Regions from separate parts of the Homo sapiens genome. Here all the other regions are linked to region 1. The links come from fine-mapping of genetic effects on gene expression. A gene starts in region 1. Each other region holds a variant in brackets. All regions are shown on one strand. Distances are between the middles of the regions.

What was found.
Region 2: its variant is fine-mapped to the expression of SLC13A3 in cerebellar hemisphere (GTEx, PIP 0.96).
Region 3: its variant is fine-mapped to the expression of SLC13A3 in whole blood (TOPMed, PIP above 0.99).
Region 4: its variant is fine-mapped to the expression of SLC13A3 in adrenal gland (GTEx, PIP 0.98).

What each region holds. Positions count from the first base shown.
Region 1 is chr20:46,650,176-46,652,861 of GRCh38, reverse strand. SLC13A3 (solute carrier family 13 member 3) reads left to right here and starts at 1,403. Exons shown (of 13, transcript NM_022829.6): 1 at 1,403-1,551. The coding sequence starts at 1,441.
Region 2 is chr20:46,978,243-46,980,928 of GRCh38, reverse strand. The region is part of intron 1 of EYA2 (EYA transcriptional coactivator and phosphatase 2); the gene reads right to left. Among named protein-coding and RNA genes, the nearest start is that of EYA2-AS1, 78 kb to the right of the region's middle. The variant T/C (reference allele first, on the strand shown) is at 1,004.
Region 3 is chr20:46,686,170-46,688,855 of GRCh38, reverse strand. TP53RK (TP53 regulating kinase) reads left to right here. Exons shown (of 2, transcript NM_033550.4): 2 at 1,625-2,686. The coding sequence ends at 2,103. Among named protein-coding and RNA genes, the nearest start is that of TP53RK-DT, 1.8 kb to the left of the region's middle. The variant G/A (reference allele first, on the strand shown) is at 1,709.
Region 4 is chr20:46,549,398-46,552,083 of GRCh38, reverse strand. It overlaps OCSTAMP (osteoclast stimulatory transmembrane protein), which reads left to right and starts at 1,430. Exons shown (of 3, transcript NM_080721.3): 1 at 1,430-1,567. The coding sequence starts at 1,524. The variant G/A (reference allele first, on the strand shown) is at 1,228.

The DNA of each region.
Region 1 (2,686 bases):
AAGTGCAAAATAGTACAATCACTTTGGAAGACAGGTTGACAGTGTCTTAAAAAGCTAAGCATTGCAAATACTGGGCAACCCAACAGTTGCACTCCTGTATGGTTACCTGAGAATAATCAGAAGTGAATAGAAGTGACTCACCCCCCTTAAAAAAAAATAAGAATAACGGCCGGGCGTGGTGACGCACACCTGTAATCCCAGAACTTTGGGAGGCCCGAGATGGGCGGATCATGAGGCCAGGAGTTCGAGACCAGCCTGGCCAAAATGGTGAAACCCCATCTCTACTAAAAATACAAAAAAAAAAAAAAAAAAAATTAGCCAGATATGGTGGCACACGCCTGTAATCCCAGCTACTCAGAAGAATTGCTTGAACCCGGGAGGCAGAGGTTGCAGTGATCCGAGATCGCTCCACTGCTCCCCAGCCCAGCCTGGGTTACAGAGTGAGACTACATCTCAAAAAAAAGAAAAAAAAACCCAAAAATAAGAATAACTCATCAGCAGCAATAACTCTCATTGAGCACCTGCTCTGCCAGACACTGCGCTAATCACATTACATGTGTTATCTCATTTAAACTTCCTAACAACCTTCTTGTCTGGTGTAGACTATTTTTAAAAATTTAACTTTTAAGTTCAGGGGTACATGTGCAGATTTGTTGTATAGGTAAACTTGTGTCATGGGGATTTGTTGCACAGATTATTTCGTCATCCAGGTATTAAGCCTAGTGCCCATTAGTTATTTTTCCTGATCCTCTGTCTCCTCCCACCCTCCAGCCTCCCATAGGCTTCAGTGTCAGTTGTTCCCCTCTATGTGTCCATGTGTTCTCATCATTTAGCTCCCGCTTATAAGTGAAAACATGCGGCATTTGGTTTTCTGTTCCTGTGTTAGTTTGCTAAGGATAATGGCCTCCAGCTCCATCCATGTTCCCGCAAAAAACATGATGTCCTTCTTTTTTGTGACTGCATAGTATTCCATGGTGTAGACTATTATTATCACCACTCCACTTTCAGGCTCAGAGGCTGTTGTTGAAGGCCACGCAGTGAGTAAGTGGCCGTGCCAGGATTTGAACCCGGGTAATAGGAGTACGCGCCTTAATCCTCGCCTTGTCATCCTCAGCCATCTCACAGGCGAGTAAACAGAGGCGAGGAGAGGATAAGCCAGCTGCCCCAGGCCACATTGCTGGGAAGCCAAGAGGCAAGGCCACACTGCCCTGCGGCTGGGGTCCCGTTTGCTAATTCTAGTGCCTAACTTTCTCCAACGTTCCCGGGCCTCTTTCACCCGGTCCCAGGGGCGCAGGCACCACCCTTTTCCTCCAGGAGGAGCAGGGAGAGGGCGGGTTCCCCAGCGCAGTCCCCTCCCCGACCCTCCCCCAGGCTTTAAGCCGGCGCCGGGGCCAGGCGGGGCAGTCCCGGGCCGGCCCGTACCGCCAGGCGATCGCGCTGATGGCGGCGCTGGCAGCAGCGGCCAAGAAGGTGTGGAGCGCGCGGCGGCTGCTGGTGCTGCTGTTCACGCCGCTCGCGCTGCTGCCGGTGGTCTTCGCCCTCCCGCCCAAGGTAACGCCTCCTCCGCCTGTGCGCCCCCGGTCAACCACAGGCGGGATCCTCTTCTCCCAAGCCTCCAAGTTGGGAGACCGCTGAGGTCCCAGTGTAGACAGGCTCCACCAGACCCCCTCGCCTTCCCTCCCTTGCACCTGCCGCGGACCGCTGTGAACGCTCCTAACGCCTCTTCCCTCTTCCCAGCTGCTCCTTAGAGCTTGAGTCCCACCCTGCCTTCTGGATCTCACTTCCATGGGAATAATTTCGTTTCGTTTCAGTGACAGGTTCTCGCCGGTCACCCAGGCTGGAGTGCAGTGATGTGATCATAGCTCACTGCAGCCTCCAACTCCTGGACTTAAGCGATCCTCCTTCCGCAGCCTCCCTAGTGGCTAGAACTACAGGTGCATGCCCAGCTAATTTTTTTTTAATAGAGATAGGGTCTCACTATGTTGTCCAGGCTGGTCTGGAACTCCTGGACTCAAGCAATTCTCCCACCTTGGTCTCCCATATACTGGGATTACAGACGTGAACCACTGTGCCTAGCAGAATTCTTTCTTTCCTGAGCTCTAATTCTGTGCTTGGTGCTGTATTGCACATTTCACGCGACAGTCACAATGAACACTTACTGGGTGCCAAGCTGTGTGACATGGTGCAAGTCACTTAACCTCTCTGAACTTCAGTTTACTCATGTGTAAAAATGGGAGAAATGATAGTGCCCACCCATAGGGCAGCGGTGAATATCAATGAGGCAATATATGTAAATCTCTTATAACTAAACCTTGTACAGAATAAATGCCCAATAAGCAGTGACTGGTCTTTTTCTGCACCAGGTCCTTACGTGATGAGGACGGTAAGATTCATGAGTGCTTACTACGGGTGAGGATTTGCCTTTTGTGTATCACTTTATTTAATCATTTCAACGCGTCTCAGAGGGGAAAGATTATTTGACCCATTTTCCAGAGGAGAAAACCAAGGCTCGGGGAGAGAAAGTGACTTGCTCAGAGTCACACAGCAAGTGACTATGTCGGTATTCAGTCCCCGGCTTGTCAGAATCCAGAACCCTAGCTGTTTTCAGTCTCCCCAAGGAAGTAACCCCTGTAAGATCAAAGGCCGCAGGTGGAGTTCAGGAGTCATAACTGAAATCAACACTAGT
Region 2 (2,686 bases), 330 kb before region 1:
GTCATTTGCAGCAACATGGATGGAACTGGAGGTCGTTATGTTAAGTGAAACAAGCCAAGGACAGAAAGACAAATATGGCATGTTCTCAATCACATGTGGGAGCTAAAAAAGTAGATCTCATGAAGATAGAGAGTAGACTGTGATTACTGAAGGCCAGGAAGGGTGGTGGGGAGGATGAAGAGAGGTTGATTAATGGGTACAAATATACAGTTAGAAGGAATAAGAGCTAGTGTTCAATAGAACAGTACGGTGACTATAATTAACAATAGTTTATCACACATTCAAAATAGCCAGAGTATAGAGTAATTTGAATGATGCTAACATAAAGAAAAGATACATATCTAAGGGGATGAAATCCCAATTATGCTGATTTGATCTGTATACATTATATGAACGTATCAAACAGTCACATGCACCCTGAAAATATGTCCATCTATTATGTATCAATAAAAAACAAAACTAAACAAAATTGTAAAAAAAATTTCAGCACAGCGAGTTTTTTGTCTTACGAACCACACCGTTTTATTATTGTATTGGAGGAGACAATGGAGGAGAGAGGCCAGTCTCTGGTGTTTGAGGCTGCTAAAGGTCTTAACCTGGCCCTAATTATATTGCTTAGTTTACAGATACTAGAAATAAAAACAGCTCACAGTTACAGAGCATTTACGCTGAGGCTTAAATCTCTCTGCATGCACTGGCTCGTTTCATCCTATGAAGTAGGTAGAGATAAGGAGACAGGTTCAGAGACTGACCTGGCTAGTCAGTGGTAGAGTCAGGATTCTCAACCAGGTGATCTGGCTCCAGATCTGTGCTCTTAACCACAGCTTGCAAATAGCTCTGGATCACAATTTCAACTCAGGGCCCATCCAGCTCTAAAGTCTACTAAGCTACCCAGTCAGAGCACCAGACGTGTTATCTGCTCCAGGGGTTCAAATCCCAGCTATGTCGTTATCAGCGGTGTAACCTTGGGCAAGTTATTTCACTTATCTGAGCCTCAGTTCTA[T/C]AAGATGGAGAAAATAATACCCTCCCCGCCAGGTTATTCTGAGAAAAATGAGTCAGAGAAGGCACGAGTGAGTGGGTATTCAACAAAGGGCAGCTGAGATTATTTGCATGCACACAGACAAAGGCTTGAAACACACCATTCGTTTCATTCCAGGTAGACACTGGAAACTGTCATCAGGATCACCCGGAAACCACTGGTTCCTATTGTGGTTTGAGGGGCAGAGTTGAGCTCTGCTGCACTTTGGTGGGGAAGGCTTCCTTCACATTCTCCCCACTCTTCCCCACCTCACAATTACCTGAAATTGGAGACCAGCTTATTCTCTATGCAGGGGAAGGAAGAGAGAACTCAGACAGCCTTCAAGGAATCTGGGGTAGGAGAAAGACTTAGCTTCCCTTTCACGAAGGCAGGGAAGGGAAAGGAAGGAAAAGCATGGAATTCATTTACAAAAAAAAAAAATTCTTTCTTTGTTGCATTGTTGCAAAACCCTGATAGCCTGGCTACTTCAGAAGACAGCCTGAAGGAGCGGGAAGAAAGAGGCATTCAGGAACACCCTCCCTCTGGCCCCCTTGGCCTGCTGCTGCCTGCGGCTTGTGCCATTTGTTACCCTTGTCACCACCCCTGTCCCTGGGGACTGGGAAGAAGTGGGGGAGCCCGAGAGATGACAGCTGGAGGGTGGGGGCAGGGGCAGCTTCAAAGGCTGGGAGGGATCAAAAGCAGATGGAGGGTCCCAGGCGGGTGGGCCGCTCACCTTTCCACACCCCCGTGAGTACACCAGCTACCTTGGCTGAGGATGGTGGCCCTGTCTGTCAGATGCAGAGGACAGATGGCCAGTCGGCTAAGGGGACTTTGGAGAGGGTCACTCCCAGCATCCTTCACGGGCTGAGAAATCAAAGCCTGCTGACTTCAATCACAGGCTTCTGGACAGACAGCAGCTGTGGCCCAAACCTGGACGTCTCTGACAGCCTCCACCAGCCTCATTCAATTTCCATTCAAAATACATCTGTGAATCACAAACCATCTTGGCTTCCCCCATTTCGGGGGCAGTTGCTCAAACCAAAAGCTCAGGATTGCTCTTACTTCTCCCTCTCCTTCAATGCTCACGTCCAATCCATCTCCAGGCCTTATAAAGTTCACCTCCATGGCCATCGCCCAGGTCCAAGCCACCATCCTCTCTGCCCAGGAAGACCACGGCAGCCCCCCTGCCCACCTCCCTGGGGCCACCGGGGCCTCCCTCCAGTTTGTTCTCTGTGCAGCAAATGACAGCATAAATCTGAACCTGCCCGCCTCACCTCATCCTTGCTTATAACCTCTGACGGCTTTCCATTGCTCTTAAGATAAAGCAAAGAGTTCCGAACACAGCCTTGATCTGGCTTCTCCTTGTCCAATATCTGATTCCAGCACGCTGGCCTTTCTCTCGCTCCACACTCCCTCTTGCCACAGGGCCTTTGTACATGCTGTTCCCTCTGCCTGGAACTCCAGTCCCTCCTGCTCACCCTGCAGAGGCCTCAGTTCCGGCAGGATTTCCCCAGGCTCTCCCTGAGTAAGCGATTTCCCTCCTGCAGCTTTCACAGGCCCATGGCCCTCTATCACACACACCAGTCACTGTAACAGTTTTTACAGGTGTTTGTGAGTTATTTAATTTCCCTAGGTCTCCCCATGACTCTCAGTCCACGTGGCTTGGCT
Region 3 (2,686 bases), 36 kb before region 1:
TTAACTTCCCTGAGCCTTGGTTTCCCCATTTGACTCGTTTCAATTTTCGATCATTATCTTTCCATTTATTAGTTTTAAGAAACATGTAATGACAAGTACTTGCCCCACTGGAGCCAGGCTCCCTGGGTTGAAATACTAACTCTGCTGCTTGTGTAGCCTTTCAACAAGTTATTTAGCCTCTCAGCCTCGGTTTTCTCACCTGTAAAATGGGAGACATAGTAGCAGTATCCATGTCATAGGGATGTTGTGACCATTAGAGGAGGTATGTGTGTCACGTATTATGTTCAAATGTGTGCCTGGCACATAGTGCCCAATAAATGTTGGATTTCATTAAATTGCCTATTTTTTCATTAAACATCATTGTGCGCCAGCACCATAAACTTTGTCCTCAGATGAGAAAGTGACACTCAGAGAGAAGTAACTTGCCCAAGGTTACACGGTTACTAAGTGGCCGGTCCAGGCCCTCAGCTCCTTATGCCTCTGACTCAGAAGCCCTGGCTTTTTACTTTTACGCTTCTTGCCTTTCTTTTATCAGTATTTTTTAGGTACCAGTGGGTACCAGGACATTGTTAAGTGCTGGGAGATCTGGGTGGGGGATATTCAGTAGCCAACAAGCGGACACATTGCTGCCCTTTCAGAGACTTAAGATTTCATGAAGTTATTTGTGTATTCATATTTCTGTTTTCAGCCTCATGATCTGTTTCGTTAAGCAGAGATTGTATTATAGCTGGCTTGTTTATTGCTGTATCCCCATTGATAACATCTCTCAGTTTCTAGAAAAGTATACTGAGCCTGGTTGACTTTCAGTAAAGATTCATTGAGTTTATTGGAGCTATTGTTCCTTGTATAGTAGCAGAAACTGAGGCTTAGAGAAGTTAATGTAATTTTAAGATTAGATTAGACAACTAATAAGAAAAGCAGCTGGGATTTGAACCCTGTCCTCTCTGACTACGAAGATGAACCTCGAAGCTAGCACACTGCTTGGCCTCCTGTTTGTGTCCTCATCAGTAGAAACTGCTCTGACTGGGCTGTGCCTTGCTCTTTGTTTTTGTTTTTTGAGACAGTGTCTCACTTTGTCACCCAGGCTGGAGTGGTGCAGTGGCACAATCTCAGCTCACTGCAACTTACGCTCCCTGAGTTCAAGCTATTCTCCTGCCTCAGCCTCCCGAGTAGCTGGGACTACAGGCGTGAGCCACCACACCTGGCTAATTTTTGTATTTTTAGTAGAGATGGGGGTCTCGAACTTCTGACCTCAAGTGATCCGCCTGCCTCCGCCTCCCAAAGTGCTGGGATTACAGGCATGAGCCACCACACCCGGCCTTTGTTTTGTTTGTTTTTTAGAGAGTGAGTGTGACAAATGAAGTCCAGTGAGAAAGGGTGGTTTGGAAGGGAGGAGGAAGCTATGGCCTCCTCAGTTTAGCTGTGGGGTGTTCCCAGGCATAGTCCTGCAGTGGGCATGAGCAGGGGAATATTCCAGATGAGTTCAGTTGTACCATTTCCTGTAGCATTCCTCAATAGTCCTGAAATAAGTAGATATAGATGGAAAAACTGGCTTAATCTTTGAAAATTAAGTTTACCCGTTAAAAAAAATCCAACCCAATAACCACTTATGTCTTGATTTCAGGAATATCTGCCCCAGTTGTCTTTTTTGTGGACTATGCTTCCAACTGCTTATATATGGAAGAAATTGAAGGCTCAGTGACTGTTC[G/A]AGATTATATTCAGTCCACTATGGAGACTGAAAAAACTCCCCAGGGTCTCTCCAACTTAGCCAAGACAATTGGGCAGGTTTTGGCTCGAATGCACGATGAAGACCTCATTCATGGTGATCTCACCACCTCCAACATGCTCCTGAAACCCCCCCTGGAACAGCTGAACATTGTGCTCATAGACTTTGGGCTGAGTTTCATTTCAGCACTTCCAGAGGATAAGGGAGTAGACCTCTATGTCCTGGAGAAGGCCTTCCTCAGTACCCATCCCAACACTGAAACTGTGTTTGAAGCCTTTCTGAAGAGCTACTCCACCTCCTCCAAAAAGGCCAGGCCAGTGCTAAAAAAATTAGATGAAGTGCGCCTGAGAGGAAGAAAGAGGTCCATGGTTGGGTAGAAGAATGTGTATGACAACCACACACAGTGAAGCTCTTTTTTCAAAGTAAATTTGAAGAAATGCTACAAGTATGAGATGAGATCTAAGTAAAGGTGTTAAGATATTTTTAAGTGGTATGTGATCGTGTCATTATCATCTGCACTTCACTCAAGAGCTTACTATGTGTCTAAGTCATGTTCTAGGCAGAATTGGGTATTTAAAGTAAATTGAGGACAGGCTTCTCCCAGATTGTGACATGTATATCTCAGATACATGGGTGTGGCATTGAACCACATAATGAGAACATTATTCTCTTTTTAGTCCTTGTGAGACAAGGATGAAGTCTCAGTTGCTGATACTCGCTGAGCTTACTGGCCCTCTAACCCAGTGTTTTTTTTTGTTGTTGTTGTGTACATGTTATATTTATTTTGAAACCAGTTTAATGGGATACAACCAGCATTTTAAAAAATGAAATAGAATACAGCATGGAAAATATCAGTGTATTGTTTTATGAAACTTTCACGTGTATATATAGACCAAGGATATGTGCTGAGTTTTGATGTCAAATATATTTCTCTTTCAGGGTCATGATCAAAAAATGAAA
Region 4 (2,686 bases), 100 kb after region 1:
ATCGCTGTGTAACTATAAGAACGTCACTTCCCCTATCCAGGCCGCAGGACATTCCCCTTCAGGCCTGAGAGTGACCCAGGCAACATGTCCTTATAAGGGAAAGTGGCTGTGCCCCTACTGGTCCATCCCACAGAGGGGGAGCCTGGGGGGCTCAGGGGAGGCCTGCTGGGAGTGATGGGGTACAGAGATGCTGGAGAGGTGTCTGCATTCCAGGTAGGAACTGGCTTTCAGGACAGCCTGAAAGCAGACCTGCAGGGCACTAACTGCAGAGGGTGTGCGTGGGGAATTTACATTATTGAGTACCTACTATTTGCAGTACCAGCTGTACTATGAAGTAATCACGAGGTCTGTGAATTATCCCCTCCACAGCAGCAGAGCCCAGTGGCTAACTGGTATACCCTGAAGCCAGCCCGCTGGTTAGAAATCACGGCAGTACCATTAATAGCTGAGTGGCGTGGTTGGCGACGTAGCTCTCTGAGTCTCAGTTTTCTGAGCTGAAGAATGAAAATAACATCTTTACCATAAAGGGATGTTCAAAGTAAGTGTTCAGTGAATTTGAAGAGAAATTGTTTAGAAGAATGCCTGATACATAGTAAGTGCTCAATAAATGTTAACTGTTATTTTCATTAACTATTTTTTTTTGAGACGGAGTCTCGCTCTGTGCCCAGGCTGGAGTGCAGTGACGTGATCTCAGCTCACTGCAACCTTGTCTCCTAGGTTCAAGTGATTCTCCTGCCTCAGCCTCCCGAGTATCTGGAACTACAGGTATGCACCACCACAAACCAGATAATTTTTGTATTTTTAGTAGAGACAGGGTTTCACCATGTTGGTCAGGCTGATCTCAAACTCCTGACCTCAGGTGATCCACCCCCCTCAGCCTCCCAGAGTGCTGGGATTACAGATGTGAGCCACTGTGCCCAGCCTCATTAAACTTTTTTTAAGGGGAGAAAACCAGCAGAGAGATATGAGGTCACCTGCCCAAGGTCTCATAGCTAGGGAGGGACAGAGCTGAGATTTGAAGCGAGGTACAAGTCAGGCTAAAGACAGGAAGGGGGCTGGGGAAGGAGACCAGAGCCACTGCTCCCAGTACTTGGCAGGGGTCTGATTATCACCTGTGAGTCCCAAGAGCAGGGATCAGGCTCCCCTTGGGGCACACAACTATGGAGTGGGAGGGAAAGGGAAGCTGTATGGTTTCTCTGTGCCTCAGTTTCCTTCTCTGTAAAATGG[G/A]GCTAATTCTACCTTCCTGCTACCAAGATTAGAGACATCGCTTGGAAAAGGCTGTCTTTTCCTCTTCCCACACCTTCCACCCGCTCTTGCTTGTGGGCAGAGGATGAGGCAGCTTGCCCAACCCTCTGGGAGGTGGGCCCCGAAAAGGGCGGGACAAGGCAGCCAGGAGAGCTTCATTAAAGAGTGGAAAAGCAGAAGTGGCAGGGATTCCCAAGTCCCAGCGATTCCCCCACTTCCTCTCCACCTGCCACAGCTGCCAGCGACCGCCCGCCTGAAACCACTGCCATTTGGACAGCATGCCAGGCCACCCAGGAGCAGCTGAGCAACTTGTCAAGACCGGGTAGGTCTGGGGACTTTGGACACTGAGGGCTACAGGTGAGAAAACAGTCAGCCATTGGGGGTGATGGATATGAACCCAAATCTTCAGCTCTGCCATTCCTTGGCTATGTGACCTTAGGCAAATCCTCAGTTCTCTGTGAGCCTCAGTTCCCCATCTGTGAAATGGAAGTAATAATGACATCTACAAGACTGTTGCCAGAATTGAATGAGAAAACACATGCTTAGTACTTGGCACCTGCTTGGCTCAGAGGAAGCACTCACTAAACAGCAGCTAGTTTCCTTGCCATTTTCAATACCCCGTGCAGGAATTGTCATCCAATATGACTTAGGACTGGCTTTCAATCCTTAAAATTGTTTTTATTATTAGCTATTATTCCAAAAGCTACTGTGTTCCAAATATTAATTATATAGTAGAAGGGGGTGTTTAGTCCCAAATTCAAATGCCTTCGGGAGCTGGGAAGGGGTTGCACCTGTGGAAGGCCACCTGGGTGTGCAGACGGACCCGTTCATTGATCAGCAGGATGCAGTCTGCAGGGCTGCTCCCCTGTCAAAGGTGGGTAGTGGATACTCAGCTCCAGCTACCTGTTGCAAAGGTGGGAGCTCTAACCCAGATCTTCTTATCTCTCAAGAAAAGCTGGAAACCCAGATTTTAATGTGAAACTTCCTTATTTCCAAATGGGGGCAGCTTACACACACACACACACACACAGAGTGGGCCACAATAAGGCACATTTGCATATGATTCAGCCTTTAGGGCTTCAAGGTTGTGACCTTCACTCCAGCCCCACAGGCCTCACTGCATCTCAGCTTCCCACTGTTCTGGTTCTCCCAACTCCCTATTTCCCGATGGTCAGAGCACAGGACCTTTGCACACGCTGTTCCTTCTGTCAGGGATGTCCAACTCCCTTCTTCACCCACAAACTGACACTTGTCCTTCCACCCCCAGCTGGAATGTCACCTCTTCCAGGGAGCCTTCCTGACTCCCAGGTAAAACTGGGTCACTCTCCATCTATCCCACCCCAGTCCAGGCCCAGGCATACTATGCTCAGAATTCTTTGTTAATGAACTTAAACTCTAATGGTCTATTTAAGTCTCCTCAATTAGACTGTGAACTCCTTTA